Linked DNA regions of Homo sapiens. The protein of the gene in region 2 purifies or fractionates together with the protein of the main gene of each other region. This does not show direct contact. Each region holds a gene or a part of one and is shown on either strand. Other genes may lie near its edges.

The links.
Region 1: the proteins of SC5D (region 2) and CCR6 purify together in Homo sapiens (co-immunoprecipitation; one large-scale study listed by IntAct). This does not show direct contact.

What each region holds. Positions count from the first base shown.
Region 1 is NC_000006.12:167,136,369-167,139,851, forward strand, and holds the end of CCR6 (C-C chemokine receptor type 6), read left to right. Parts: coding exon 1-987; 3' UTR 988-2,773; downstream 2,774-3,483. UniProt on the Homo sapiens protein: Receptor for the C-C type chemokine CCL20. Binds to CCL20 and subsequently transduces a signal by increasing the intracellular calcium ion levels.
Region 2 is NC_000011.10:121,302,705-121,306,467, reverse strand, and holds part of SC5D (lathosterol oxidase), read right to left. Parts: intron 3,103-3,763; 5' UTR 3,093-3,102; coding exon 2,883-3,092; intron 2,108-2,882; coding exon 1,975-2,107; intron 83-1,974; coding exon 1-82. UniProt on the Homo sapiens protein: Catalyzes the penultimate step of the biosynthesis of cholesterol, the dehydrogenation of lathosterol into 7-dehydrocholesterol (7-DHC).

The DNA of each region.
Region 1 (3,483 bases), on a different chromosome or scaffold from region 2:
CTATTTGTACCGATTGCCTACTCCTTGATCTGTGTCTTTGGCCTCCTGGGGAATATTCTGGTGGTGATCACCTTTGCTTTTTATAAGAAGGCCAGGTCTATGACAGACGTCTATCTCTTGAACATGGCCATTGCAGACATCCTCTTTGTTCTTACTCTCCCATTCTGGGCAGTGAGTCATGCCACCGGTGCGTGGGTTTTCAGCAATGCCACGTGCAAGTTGCTAAAAGGCATCTATGCCATCAACTTTAACTGCGGGATGCTGCTCCTGACTTGCATTAGCATGGACCGGTACATCGCCATTGTACAGGCGACTAAGTCATTCCGGCTCCGATCCAGAACACTACCGCGCAGCAAAATCATCTGCCTTGTTGTGTGGGGGCTGTCAGTCATCATCTCCAGCTCAACTTTTGTCTTCAACCAAAAATACAACACCCAAGGCAGCGATGTCTGTGAACCCAAGTACCAGACTGTCTCGGAGCCCATCAGGTGGAAGCTGCTGATGTTGGGGCTTGAGCTACTCTTTGGTTTCTTTATCCCTTTGATGTTCATGATATTTTGTTACACGTTCATTGTCAAAACCTTGGTGCAAGCTCAGAATTCTAAAAGGCACAAAGCCATCCGTGTAATCATAGCTGTGGTGCTTGTGTTTCTGGCTTGTCAGATTCCTCATAACATGGTCCTGCTTGTGACGGCTGCAAATTTGGGTAAAATGAACCGATCCTGCCAGAGCGAAAAGCTAATTGGCTATACGAAAACTGTCACAGAAGTCCTGGCTTTCCTGCACTGCTGCCTGAACCCTGTGCTCTACGCTTTTATTGGGCAGAAGTTCAGAAACTACTTTCTGAAGATCTTGAAGGACCTGTGGTGTGTGAGAAGGAAGTACAAGTCCTCAGGCTTCTCCTGTGCCGGGAGGTACTCAGAAAACATTTCTCGGCAGACCAGTGAGACCGCAGATAACGACAATGCGTCGTCCTTCACTATGTGATAGAAAGCTGAGTCTCCCTAAGGCATGTGTGAAACATACTCATAGATGTTATGCAAAAAAAAGTCTATGGCCAGGTATGCATGGAAAATGTGGGAATTAAGCAAAATCAAGCAAGCCTCTCTCCTGCGGGACTTAACGTGCTCATGGGCTGTGTGATCTCTTCAGGGTGGGGTGGTCTCTGATAGGTAGCATTTTCCAGCACTTTGCAAGGAATGTTTTGTAGCTCTAGGGTATATATCCGCCTGGCATTTCACAAAACAGCCTTTGGGAAATGCTGAATTAAAGTGAATTGTTGACAAATGTAAACATTTTCAGAAATATTCATGAAGCGGTCACAGATCACAGTGTCTTTTGGTTACAGCACAAAATGATGGCAGTGGTTTGAAAAACTAAAACAGAAAAAAAAATGGAAGCCAACACATCACTCATTTTAGGCAAATGTTTAAACATTTTTATCTATCAGAATGTTTATTGTTGCTGGTTATAAGCAGCAGGATTGGCCGGCTAGTGTTTCCTCTCATTTCCCTTTGATACAGTCAACAAGCCTGACCCTGTAAAATGGAGGTGGAAAGACAAGCTCAAGTGTTCACAACCTGGAAGTGCTTCGGGAAGAAGGGGACAATGGCAGAACAGGTGTTGGTGACAATTGTCACCAATTGGATAAAGCAGCTCAGGTTGTAGTGGGCCATTAGGAAACTGTCGGTTTGCTTTGATTTCCCTGGGAGCTGTTCTCTGTCGTGAGTGTCTCTTGTCTAAACGTCCATTAAGCTGAGAGTGCTATGAAGACAGGATCTAGAATAATCTTGCTCACAGCTGTGCTCTGAGTGCCTAGCGGAGTTCCAGCAAACAAAATGGACTCAAGAGAGATTTGATTAATGAATCGTAATGAAGTTGGGGTTTATTGTACAGTTTAAAATGTTAGATGTTTTTAATTTTTTAAATAAATGGAATACTTTTTTTTTTTTTTTAAAGAAAGCAACTTTACTGAGACAATGTAGAAAGAAGTTTTGTTCCGTTTCTTTAATGTGGTTGAAGAGCAATGTGTGGCTGAAGACTTTTGTTATGAGGAGCTGCAGATTAGCTAGGGGACAGCTGGAATTATGCTGGCTTCTGATAATTATTTTAAAGGGGTCTGAAATTTGTGATGGAATCAGATTTTAACAGCTCTCTTCAATGACATAGAAAGTTCATGGAACTCATGTTTTTAAAGGGCTATGTAAATATATGAACATTAGAAAAATAGCAACTTGTGTTACAAAAATACAAACACATGTTAGGAAGGTACTGTCATGGGCTAGGCATGGTGGCTCACACCTGTAATCCCAGCATTTTGGGAAGCTAAGATGGGTGGATCACTTGAGGTCAGGAGTTTGAGACCAGCCTGGCCAACATGGCGAAACCCCTCTCTACTAAAAATACAAAAATTTGCCAGGCGTGGTGGCGGGTGCCTGTAATCCCAGCTACTTGGGAGGCTGAGGCAAGAGAATCGCTTGAACCCAGGAGGCAGAGGTTGCAGTGAGCCGAGATCGTGCCATTGCACTCCAGCCTGGGTGACAAAGCGAGACTCCATCTCAAAAAAAAAAAAAAAAAAAAAGGAAAGAACTGTCATGTAAACATACCAACATGTTTAAACCTGACAATGGTGTTATTTGAAACTTTATATTGTTCTTGTAAGCTTTAACTATATCTCTCTTTAAAATGCAAAATAATGTCTTAAGATTCAAAGTCTGTATTTTTAAAGCATGGCTTTGGCTTTGCAAAATAAAAAATGTGTTTTGTACATGAAGTAGGAATCGTATTTCAGCTTCAAGGTTCAGATTGAGGGGCCCACTGTTTGGAGAGGATGGTATTCAGGCTTTCTCATGTCCTTCAAATCTGTTAGCGTTTGACTCTAGAAATCAAAGCAAAGGAGTGGTTACCCAGACACTTCTTTTGGTGTGATCAATGCGCTGATGTGATCTATGAAGATGATTCATGCTTGAAAACTAGCACAGAAACATCTTGCTTATTTGCCAAAGCTGGGAGATGAGCTTCTCTGCATAATTTAAATGTTCAGATAAATGAAGCTGACTTATTTAAGCAATAACCTTTTAAACATTTTAGCTAAGATGTATAAAAATGTTTCCAAAATATACCACATACTTTATTTCTTCTTAAATGTAGTACATTAGGTTACATCATTTTTCTTGCTGTCTTGGGCATCAAAACAGGTGCCATGGTAACCTGACACTCTCAGGAGACATTAAGATAGAAGGGGCTGTTCTTCAGTGGTTCCCATTGATTCTCCCCATATCTTTTTGCTCTCAGGCTCTGGCCGTCTCTTCCTGAGCCTTAACTGTGTCTGCCGTTAGTCCTCCTCTCCACTCATTGCAAACATTATTCTATATGTTTGGTGGGGACATCAGCTATCTGCGCTTGTCAGAATTGTCTATTAATAGGGGCAATGTGTTAGAACCTCCAAGTATTCAATTATTTCTGGATACGTGAGATCTTACT
Region 2 (3,763 bases):
TGAAGGCCTCTGTGAATCCAGTAGATGAACATGTCAGTGAAAAAGAGGAAAGATATTATACTAACGACAAGTTCAAACAATCCTAGAAAAGAAAACGGGAAACAGAAGAATCAAAACTCAGCTCCTGGGATTAGAGTTCACTTTTCACATGTCCATCTGAGTGCAAAATGGGATCCTAGACTCAAACATTATAAATGATCTGTTCTGGCTAATTCAGTATATTATAAACTAATCTCTCTTGGCTTCTTGGAATCTGGTCATTTCCTCATTTCCCTCGCATAAGTACTTGAAATGTTCTACCTAAAGTACTTCTTAATTAAACTATAAAGATATTTGTGAGACAGGATACTCCTAAGACATCTTTATTATTTAAATCTCTGGGAATCATCACTTCCTTCATATTAATCTTCCTAAAACCCATCTTTACACATTATCTCCCTGCTTAAAATATACTTTCCACTAAATACTTTAAATTTAGCATTTATTCCATACTCCACCCCTTTCGGATCTTTCCAACCTCATCACTCCTGTATTTCTACTCTAACCAGGCAGGTTTACTCAATGTCCTCCCACTGTCTTGGAAGTTTTACCTCTGTATCTTTCATCATAGGGGTTCAAGAACCTAAAATGTCCTCTCTCCCTTTATTTTAACTCATAATCATATCCATTTTTCAAAGCCCAGCCAATTCATTACTCTAGTATATAATTTTTTGTTCCTTCTTCTGAATAACTGACTTTTTTTTTCTTTTTTTTTTTTGAGACGGAGTCTCGCTCTGTCGCCCAGGCTGGAGTGCAGTGGCGCAATCTCTGCCTCCCAGGTTCAAGGGATTCTCCTGCCTCACCCTCCTGAGTAGCTGGGACTACAGGTGTGCACCACCACACCCCGCTAATTTTTTGTATTTTAGTAGAGATGGGGTTTCACCATGTTGGCCAGGATGGTCTCATACTCCTGACCTCGTGATCCTCCTACCTCGGTCTCCCAAAGTGCTGGGATTACAGGATTGAGCCACCGCGCCCGGCAATAACTAACTTCTTACTTAAAGTGTGGGGGTGCTGGTGCCTGCAAGCCTGAGTCCAAGTCTCAGATCTACCACCAACTCGTTACTGAAACTCTCTGTACACCTCATTGACTCACCTATAAAAGGAGCACAGTGATAGTACCTATCTCATAGAATTGTAGGAAAACAATGGACTGATTCTTGTGAAGAGCTGAGAACTGTCACTGACACATATCAGCCTTCAATAAATACTATGATTCTTGCTTTTTACATACTAGATCCTAGAAATGTATCTTGAAAAAGTTTCAGAATTTCACAAAAGTTTACTCACTACAGGGCTGTTTATAATACAAAAAAGAGTAACAATCTGAAGGTCTAACAATTAGGTATCATTTACATAACTTATGAATATCCGCACAGTACTATGACTAATATATTACATAATCTCAAGATTTTTTTGACATGAAAATACAACCATGTAAGTTGCTAAGAGAAACAAAATTCAGAGCCCAAACCACTATGCACCTCAGGACTTCATTTGTGTAATGTAAACAATGAAGTATACAGGCACAGAAAAGTGGGTGGTTGTATGCCAGAAGAGTTACAGTTTCTAAGAAGCAGAATAATGCATTTTAAAAATCTGTTTTTAACTTTCAGCAATGACATAAGCTACTCAAGTTTTTTTTAGAAGGTTGAATTCAATAATTAATAGAAAACAAATGCAAGGACCCATCTCTGATCACTCCAATCTTCCGCCAGACACAATCTCATCTACAGCAGACTTTCAGATTGATAGAAAAACTAAAGAAATGCACATGTGGCAAGACATGAACACATGAAAATAGAACATTAAAAAACAACTGAATAATTTGTAATTATTTTAAAAGATGAAAAAAAAAAGGGCAGACTTGTTTTTTTAAGGAAACTAACCTGTGCTTAGACTACTCTCTTCCTGACACTCGTGTTATTTACTTACCATATGGAAACTCTCCTAGGTCATCATGTAATTTGCTGTAACCTCTTATCTCCAGCAAGAACAGTGCAACAGTAAGAATACTTATCCATGGCAATGCCTGGACAGTAAACTTAATCTCTCGACGGACTTGATTCTGAAAGTGAAATTTCCAATACTTAAAAATCACAAAATCCATGTTAAACAAAACTAGCATAAAACTGTTCTGGACTGGATTTTTAAAATCTCTTTTACATGAAGGGGCTTACCTCCAAACTGTTTCTATTAAAATTTTAAATACATAAAAATAGGTATGTAAGAAAATCATTCCTTTTGTACTGAGAAAATGCAATAAGTATTTCAAATTCTGAAACCTTTTTTCCTTCCTCCAAAATCTGCATTCTAAACTTCTATTTATGGAATAACCATTTCTTTCCTAATTAACTTCCATCCCCAATCCTCTCTATTTTTTCTTTTTGCTGTTCAGTCCTTGGAGTCACTGACAAGTACAAACAACCGAAATTTAAAAATGATTGTAAACAACTTTAAAACTACTGAGTTTGAATCCCCTATCTAGCCAAAAAACAAAACATGGTAAAAAAACACATTTCAGTTTGTGAAAATCATATATTAAAATAATTACATAAATGTATGCATTTATTTACTCATCAATATCAGCATAAAAATGCTCCAATATGCATCTAGCAAGATACGATACTAGACTTATAGTTTTATTAAAAAGTTAGATTTGCTTAAACTAAGGGAAGGAGAGCAGGGATTAACCCTCATGAAAATATCTAACCCATTTGTGGTTGGTCTCCAAAATTTTATTTAATGGTTACATATAATCAGCTTAATCTAAAAATCTCAGAAATATATCATATTGTTATTTTTACTTTAATCGTTAGAAAATAGGTAAAAACATTTCTTACCTTTAAAAATTGTGGATGTTTCATTAATGCATGATCGAAGACAAAATAATAGCTCAGTGTTGCACAGAAGAAATAAAGGATGTAAGCACCAACATTTGTTACAATCAGAAGACTAATAGCTTGTCGGAAGATGTCATCTTCTGGCCATGTGGCTGGATACACGTATGGTGTAAAAAAATAGTAATCTGCAACACGGAGTACAAGATCCATCACTTAGCCCCTAAAAAATAAGCATGTGTGACAATTAGTTACCATGTCTCTATTTTTCCAGGCAAAAATTTTTCAGAAACACTATATCTCAAGTTCCTGATTTAAGAACAGTCATATGCAGTACATCTGCTGCTATCAGAATCCCCTACATGCCATCTTTAGAGCCAGAAGGGATCTTAGATATCATCTCTAGTCCAATCTCTTCATACTATGTATGGGGATGCTAAAGCTCAGTTAGAGAAACTGAGGCCCAGGAAAGGTCATCAAGCTGCTAAGTGGCACAAGCCCAGATGGAATTCCATTTCAGTGTCATTCCCTACCGCGTCCTATGGCAGCATGGCAAGTGGTAAAGATGGGAATGCAGGGGACTAGGTACTCAGACAAATAGTTTCCTCTTTCAGCTACAAGTTTCAGCTCATCTCTCTCCTTCAAGGATTCATACTTCAGAGATTTTTGCTTCAGCACTGACACCTAAGATAAATTCCCTAAAAGATATCCATGCTGCCACCACAACCATAGAATTGGGACTATCTGTTCTTCTGACACTCCCATTGACAGAACAAAGGAAGATGTATTCTTGGTGTTAAGAACTGGAATACATTTATTTCTCTACCTCTAATCAATATTCCAGATCGGGAGTTGGTAAATTGCAGCCCACGGGCCAAACTCAG